Homo sapiens: one gene and its partner. The protein of the gene in region 1 interacts with the protein of each later gene in a biochemical or structural test. Each region holds a gene or a part of one and is shown in the gene's direction. Other genes may lie near its edges.

What was found. The genes of interacting proteins can lie anywhere in the genome.
Region 2: of the proteins of MAPK14 (region 1) and PI4K2B, one has a biochemical effect on the other in vitro, tested with the Homo sapiens proteins (one study listed by BioGRID).

The regions. Positions count from the first base shown.
Region 1 is NC_000006.12:36,107,559-36,112,130, forward strand, and holds the end of MAPK14 (mitogen-activated protein kinase 14), read left to right. Parts: coding exon 1-70; intron 71-821; coding exon 822-889; 3' UTR 890-3,678; downstream 3,679-4,572. UniProt on the Homo sapiens protein: Serine/threonine kinase which acts as an essential component of the MAP kinase signal transduction pathway.
Region 2 is NC_000004.12:25,250,712-25,254,532, forward strand, and holds part of PI4K2B (phosphatidylinositol 4-kinase type 2-beta), read left to right. Parts: intron 1-1,609; coding exon 1,610-1,764; intron 1,765-3,821. UniProt on the Homo sapiens protein: Together with PI4K2A and the type III PI4Ks (PIK4CA and PIK4CB) it contributes to the overall PI4-kinase activity of the cell. This contribution may be especially significant in plasma membrane, endosomal and Golgi compartments.

The DNA.
Region 1 (4,572 bases):
GATGAACCAGTGGCCGATCCTTATGATCAGTCCTTTGAAAGCAGGGACCTCCTTATAGATGAGTGGAAAAGTAAGTCCTAAGGGTAGGATTAACATCTTGAACCACTAACCAAAAGCGGTGGGAAAAATAAAAACTGAATGGTCATAACCAACTTGCTAAAGCTTGTAGATGAGGTCTCTAATGCAGAATGAATATGTTCTCTGGTGGAAACTGTTGTAGACAGTGATACTCTCTGGACCTTTGAGATACTTATGTCTGGTCTGATTTTATGCACAGCCCCTCACATAGGAGTTTTGCATGGAGAGTTGAGGTTTTCAGAGTCATTGCATTTACAACATCTCTCTGAGCTTTTACAGTTTTACAATTAGTAGAACTGGGGCAAAGAGAATTTATGTCTTATCAGTTAACTTAGAACTAGTTAGGGACATAGCCAGGAATGGAACCCATGTATCCTGTGTCCAGTCCCATATTCTTTCCACAAAACACAAGTTCAGAACTCTAGTTAAATCCCAAGAGCCAAGACCATCTGTTGCTGTAGCTTGTGAGAGTGCTCTTTCATTCTTGAGCACCTCCGTAGAGAGCTTAAAAGAAGAGGCACTCAGCGATGAAAAACATGAGAAAAAAAATGGTTCTTTTCTATGTCCCTTGAACTTCTGTGTGATAACGTGTTCCAGTAGGCTATTACATACAAGCTGTGAGGTAGCCCATCAAACCACTACCTGGACAGAGAGGAAGGATCTTGAGCTTAGAAGTCAGAGTGCTTGCCAGCAAAGAGAATAGCCTAAACTCTCACATCTTACTTTTCCTTCCCAATTTCTAGGCCTGACCTATGATGAAGTCATCAGCTTTGTGCCACCACCCCTTGACCAAGAAGAGATGGAGTCCTGAGCACCTGGTTTCTGTTCTGTTGATCCCACTTCACTGTGAGGGGAAGGCCTTTTCACGGGAACTCTCCAAATATTATTCAAGTGCCTCTTGTTGCAGAGATTTCCTCCATGGTGGAAGGGGGTGTGCGTGCGTGTGCGTGCGTGTTAGTGTGTGTGCATGTGTGTGTCTGTCTTTGTGGGAGGGTAAGACAATATGAACAAACTATGATCACAGTGACTTTACAGGAGGTTGTGGATGCTCCAGGGCAGCCTCCACCTTGCTCTTCTTTCTGAGAGTTGGCTCAGGCAGACAAGAGCTGCTGTCCTTTTAGGAATATGTTCAATGCAAAGTAAAAAAATATGAATTGTCCCCAATCCCGGTCATGCTTTTGCCACTTTGGCTTCTCCTGTGACCCCACCTTGACGGTGGGGCGTAGACTTGACAACATCCCACAGTGGCACGGAGAGAAGGCCCATACCTTCTGGTTGCTTCAGACCTGACACCGTCCCTCAGTGATACGTACAGCCAAAAAGGACCAACTGGCTTCTGTGCACTAGCCTGTGATTAACTTGCTTAGTATGGTTCTCAGATCTTGACAGTATATTTGAAACTGTAAATATGTTTGTGCCTTAAAAGGAGAGAAGAAAGTGTAGATAGTTAAAAGACTGCAGCTGCTGAAGTTCTGAGCCGGGCAAGTCGAGAGGGCTGTTGGACAGCTGCTTGTGGGCCCGGAGTAATCAGGCAGCCTTCATAGGCGGTCATGTGTGCATGTGAGCACATGCGTATATGTGCGTCTCTCTTTCTCCCTCACCCCCAGGTGTTGCCATTTCTCTGCTTACCCTTCACCTTTGGTGCAGAGGTTTCTTGAATATCTGCCCCAGTAGTCAGAAGCAGGTTCTTGATGTCATGTACTTCCTGTGTACTCTTTATTTCTAGCAGAGTGAGGATGTGTTTTGCACGTCTTGCTATTTGAGCATGCACAGCTGCTTGTCCTGCTCTCTTCAGGAGGCCCTGGTGTCAGGCAGGTTTGCCAGTGAAGACTTCTTGGGTAGTTTAGATCCCATGTCACCTCAGCTGATATTATGGCAAGTGATATCACCTCTCTTCAGCCCCTAGTGCTATTCTGTGTTGAACACAATTGATACTTCAGGTGCTTTTGATGTGAAAATCATGAAAAGAGGAACAGGTGGATGTATAGCATTTTTATTCATGCCATCTGTTTTCAACCAACTATTTTTGAGGAATTATCATGGGAAAAGACCAGGGCTTTTCCCAGGAATATCCCAAACTTCGGAAACAAGTTATTCTCTTCACTCCCAATAACTAATGCTAAGAAATGCTGAAAATCAAAGTAAAAAATTAAAGCCCATAAGGCCAGAAACTCCTTTTGCTGTCTTTCTCTAAATATGATTACTTTAAAATAAAAAAGTAACAAGGTGTCTTTTCCACTCCTATGGAAAAGGGTCTTCTTGGCAGCTTAACATTGACTTCTTGGTTTGGGGAGAAATAAATTTTGTTTCAGAATTTTGTATATTGTAGGAATCCTTTGAGAATGTGATTCCTTTTGATGGGGAGAAAGGGCAAATTATTTTAATATTTTGTATTTTCAACTTTATAAAGATAAAATATCCTCAGGGGTGGAGAAGTGTCGTTTTCATAACTTGCTGAATTTCAGGCATTTTGTTCTACATGAGGACTCATATATTTAAGCCTTTTGTGTAATAAGAAAGTATAAAGTCACTTCCAGTGTTGGCTGTGTGACAGAATCTTGTATTTGGGCCAAGGTGTTTCCATTTCTCAATCAGTGCAGTGATACATGTACTCCAGAGGGACAGGGTGGACCCCCTGAGTCAACTGGAGCAAGAAGGAAGGAGGCAGACTGATGGCGATTCCCTCTCACCCGGGACTCTCCCCCTTTCAAGGAAAGTGAACCTTTAAAGTAAAGGCCTCATCTCCTTTATTGCAGTTCAAATCCTCACCATCCACAGCAAGATGAATTTTATCAGCCATGTTTGGTTGTAAATGCTCGTGTGATTTCCTACAGAAATACTGCTCTGAATATTTTGTAATAAAGGTCTTTGCACATGTGACCACATACGTGTTAGGAGGCTGCATGCTCTGGAAGCCTGGACTCTAAGCTGGAGCTCTTGGAAGAGCTCTTCGGTTTCTGAGCATAATGCTCCCATCTCCTGATTTCTCTGAACAGAAAACAAAAGAGAGAATGAGGGAAATTGCTATTTTATTTGTATTCATGAACTTGGCTGTAATCAGTTATGCCGTATAGGATGTCAGACAATACCACTGGTTAAAATAAAGCCTATTTTTCAAATTTAGTGAGTTTCTCAAGTTTATTATATTTTTCTCTTGTTTTTATTTAATGCACAATATGGCATTATATCAATATCCTTTAAACTGTGACCTGGCATACTTGTCTGACAGATCTTAATACTACTCCTAACATTTAGAAAATGTTGATAAAGCTTCTTAGTTGTACATTTTTTGGTGAAGAGTATCCAGGTCTTTGCTGTGGATGGGTAAAGCAAAGAGCAAATGAACGAAGTATTAAGCATTGGGGCCTGTCTTATCTACACTCGAGTGTAAGAGTGGCCGAAATGACAGGGCTCAGCAGACTGTGGCCTGAGGGCCAAATCTGGCCCACCACCTGTTTGGTGTAGCCTGCTAAGAATGGCTTTTACATTTTTAAATGGTTGGGAAAGAAAAAAAAAGAAGTAGTAGATTTTGTAGCATGTGATGTAAGTAATGTAAAACTTAAATTCCAGTATCCATAAATAAAGTTTTATGAGAACAGAGCCGCACTCATCTGTTTATGTATTGTCTGTGGCTGCTTTTGTGCTACAGTGACAGAGGCAAATAGTTGCAGCAGAGACTATAGGACCTCCAAAATGTCAACCATTTACCATCTGGCCCTTTAGAGAAGTCTGCTGACCCTTGGCCCAGGGCTACAGTTTTCTCATCTATAAAGTGAAGTTCAGGTTTTTTTCATCTTTGACATTTGAGACTATCTATAAGCCATATATTTTTATTATAAAACTGCCAGAGAGAAGGTTTGGTTTGTATATATAGGTGTACATTGTTTGTAAGCTTTTAGGCGAATGTATTTTATGACTCTGTTTTGTCTTAGCTGGCTACGGTCCTTGAAAATATTCTTCAGAATGACTGAATTGCATCACGGGATGAAAGAGCCACGGGGTCTCACAGCTGAGTTCTCAGGGACTTTGCTGATGTGCTTCCTTTCTTGGTGTCCTTGGAATGACACCCAGCAGGTGTCCCAGGGTGGATTGTGGGGCTCAGCCTGTGAGGATATTGAGAGCTGGGTTTTTGTCCAGGCCCTGGCTGGCAGCTGGGAATGAAGGCAGTGATCGAAGGCAGACCAAGCATAGTCTCCTTTCCATCCCCAGTGACTTCGTAAGGAGGTGAGAGAAAAGGGCCCCGGTTGTTACATGGGGTCCTTTAGCTCCTGTTAAGAATCAGACAGTTGGCCGGGCGTGGTGGCTCACGCCTGTAATCTCAGCACTTTGGGAGGCTGAGGCGGGCAGATCACGAGGTCAGGAGATCGAGACCATCCTGGCTAACACGGTGAAACCCCGTCTCTACTAAAAATACAAAAAATTAGCTGGGCGTGGTGGTGCATGCCTGTAATCCCAGCTATTCAGGAGGCTGAGGCGGGAGAATGGTATGAACCA
Region 2 (3,821 bases), on another chromosome or scaffold:
GCTTCTCTGTTAGGTATAGAGAGGGACTGGGTGAGAGAGGGAGACCAGTTAGGAGGCTCTTAGAATAATCGAGGTGAGAGCCGATGGTAACCTGAATCATGTGGAAGGAATGGAGATGGCAAGAGGTGGTTGGATTCTGGGTATTTATTTAAGGTAGAGCCAATACAACCTGCTGATTGGATGTAGAGGGTAAGCGTGTGAGATCATGGATGATTATAAGGTTTTTGGCCTAAGCAACTGGAAGATTTGGAGGTGCCAGCAACTGCAATATGGGAAACGTAGGGATGAAGCCTTTGGGAGGCGTAAAGGTGAAGAATGAAGTTTTGGGTAGTGAAGTTTGAGATGTCTATTACGCATCCAAGTGGAGATGTTGAATACAGTTGTCGAGTTTAGGGCAGAAGTCCAGGCTTGAATTAGAAATTTGGGAGTCACCAGTGTTGGTAACGGAGAGAAGAGGACTGTGAATGGAACCTGGGCCATTCCAAAGTTAAGTAGTTGGTAATAAATGCAGTGCTGGGGGCTGGTCGTAGTATTTTGTGATTGCTGCTTATTTCTTAATGAAATAGGAAGCTAGATCCTCTCCTGAGAGAGAGGATGGAAGAGGAGGTGTTGGGAATTTGAGGAGAGAAATTGGCTCATGTGCATTTCTTTAATTCCGCTGCCCTGGTGCAGGCATGGAGTTGGTAGACAGTTGGGTTTAACCAGGACTGGGAGTTTTGCAGGTGACCATGATGAAGGGAGAAAGAAAGAGTTGATTTTGTGAAGACCCAGCATAATTTAAGCTGGCCAAGGAGGAGGGAAGCAAGGACATGAAGGGAGAGAATTCCAGTGACGTGGGGGAGCAGTCCTTTGTAGGTTCTAGTAGGGCAGAAGAATATTTGGACTCGGAGTGCCAGAGGGACTGAACTGGGAAGACAGGAGGTGCTTGAAATTGAAAGTGTGGTGAGGTTGCAGTTACTGGTATTGACAAAATCCGAGATATGATTGGGGAACTAGAGGATGAAGTAGGATGGATGATAGAATCATTGCAGGACCGAAGTTCAAAGAAATGAGAGGTATTAGTATTATTTTTAATGAACAGTTAACTTCCTCCCATGTTGTTGTTGTTGTTGTTGTTATTATTATTATTTGGACGGTGTCTCGCTCTTATTGCCCAGGCTGGAGTGCAGTGGCGCAATCTCTGCTCACTGCAACCTCCACCTCCCAGATTCAAGTGATTCTCCTGCCTCAGCCTTCCGAGTAGCTGGAATTACAGGTGCCCACCACCACATCTGGCTAATTTTTTGTATTTTTAGTAGACACGGGGTTTTGCCATGTTGGCCAGGCTGGTCTTGAACTCTCCTGACCTCAGGTGATCCACTCGCCTCAGCCTCCTAAAGTGCTGGGATTACAGGCGTGAGCCACTGTGCCCGCCCCCGCCCCCATGTTATTATTTGGAAATTTAAGAGAAGTGGGGGTTGTTAGGCAGTGGGGGGAAGGAGGATTAGAGCAGTCTATACAAATCTTGATTACATTTTTCTGTACCTTATATCCTGATACCGGCAAGCTAATCGATATTACAGGTCCATATCATGAGCATTCTCATAGCTGGTATTTCTTCTTAATGCAGTAACTATTGGTACTTCAGAGATGAATGCATTCTTGGATGACCCAGAATTTGCCGATATTATGCTGAGAGCAGAGCAAGCAATAGAAGTTGGAATTTTTCCAGAAAGAATCTCTCAAGGTTCAAGTGGAAGTTACTTTGTGAAGGATCCTAAGAGGGTGAGAATTTCACAGACCTATTATATGTAATGGAAACTTTGGTAAATACTAATTTAAATATGAAATCATTGTGAGTTTCTAAAGATATTTTCCTATTAAGTCTGATTGTAACCTCTTTTCCAAAACAAAGGTCAGTTTTTGTTTGTTTTTTGAGACGCCCGGGGTCGCCCTCTCTTACCCAGGCTGGAGTGCAGTGGTGCAATCATAGCTCACTGTAACCTTGACCACCTGGGCTCAGGCAATCCTCCCATCTCAGCCTCCCAAGTAGGTGGGACCATAGTTGCGTGCCACCACACTGGGCTAATTTTTGTAATTATTTGTAGAGACGGTGGTCTCCCTATATTGCCCTGGCTGGTCTTGAACTCCTGGGCTCAAGCAAACCTCGGCTTTGGCTCCCAAAGTGTTGAGATTACAGGTGTGAGCCACTGTGCCCAGCCTCAATGTTTTGCTTTTACTAAAGCACTCTAGTGCTTAGAAACAGAGCTAATCAGTTCAAGTCACAGTTTGCTATTTTGTTATTTTATACTTGGTTTCAAGCATTTATTGAATACCCACATTCAGCTGTAGCCTTTTTGAGTATATATATTCACAAGTCCTTATCTTATGGAAGTCTATAACCTTAATAGCCAAACACGGTGGAAGGTTAAACCTTCAAAAGTTGTTTAATGTCATTTCCAAAGTACTTGATTTTTTTTCAAAGGTATGTGAATACCTTTTCTGGCATTTTACCAGGGGAAGGAGGCTTAGCAATCTGAAGCTTGAAAGTATTGGAATGTGAAAGTGAAATGAACCACAGGATGATTCTAAAGTGGAAAAGAGAAGTTGATGTGGCACTTTGCTCCACTTAGTCTAGAATTTTTCAAAAATATGTTATTTTTTCTAAAAGCTTTCTGAATGATGCATAATGAGCAGTTCTTTTCTCCAGGGGAATAACGTTTATAATTTCACCCAATTTTTTTGGCAAAGATAGAAGTTCTATTTTTAAAATGATTTTAAAGCATAGTCCCTTTTTTAAGATTAAAATGTATTTGAAGGTACTGTCAATCTCTCAATCTTTATTCTAAGCTTGATTTCTTAATTTGATCTTGTTGACTTTTTTACTAGTGACTCAGACCTTATTGCATTATATTTATTGTGTTATAAAGCAATTATATACTTAAAATTATAATAAGATTTGTTCTTGTCTAAGGATAATTCAGCTTCTAAATTGAATATGAGTATATTGTATCAAACAATAAGAGTACAGAGACTTTTAGACATTCATGAGCAAAAAAAGATTTTTTAATACGAGAGAATTTAATCAATTTATTTGTTAAGATGGATTCTCACTCTGTCGCCCAGGCTGGAGTGCAGTAGCACAGTCTCGGCTCACTGCAACCTCCACCTCCCGGGTTCAAGCGATTATCCTGCCACAGCCTCCTGAGTAGCCGGGATTACAGGCGCTCGCCACCACGCCGAGCTAATTGTTGTATTTTGAGTAGAGACGGGATTTCCCCATGTTGACCAGGCTGGTCTCCTGACCTCAAGTGATCTGCTCACCTCCCAAAGTGCTGGGATTACAGGTGTGAGCCACAGCGCCTGGCCAAGAGTTTACTTTAAATTGGTTCCTGAAAAAATAGCTGGAAAAGAATTAGGGTACGAGAATCTGACAGCATGGATGTACACTGTATCTTATCATTATATTTGTATTTTAGAGGTAGTTTTTGTCATTGGATTAGTTAATTTAACAAATACTTGGATGTCCACTGTTCATCAGATACTGTTCTGACTACTGGAAATGCAGCCCTAACAAACCAAGTCCTTGCCTTATTAGAATGTACATTAATGTGGGGAAAGTAAACAGCAAACATGTAATGTGGATATTTAATAGATAGTGAATAATAACACTGTTTGACCTAGAATGGTGGTTTTGAAACATTTAAAAATCAGTGAAAGTCTTTCCTTTTTTTTTTTTTTGAGACAGAGTCTCGCTCTGTCACCCAGGCTGGAGTGCAGTGGTGCGATCTCCGCTCACTGCAAGCTCTGCCTCCTGGGTTCATGCCATTCTCCAGCCTCAG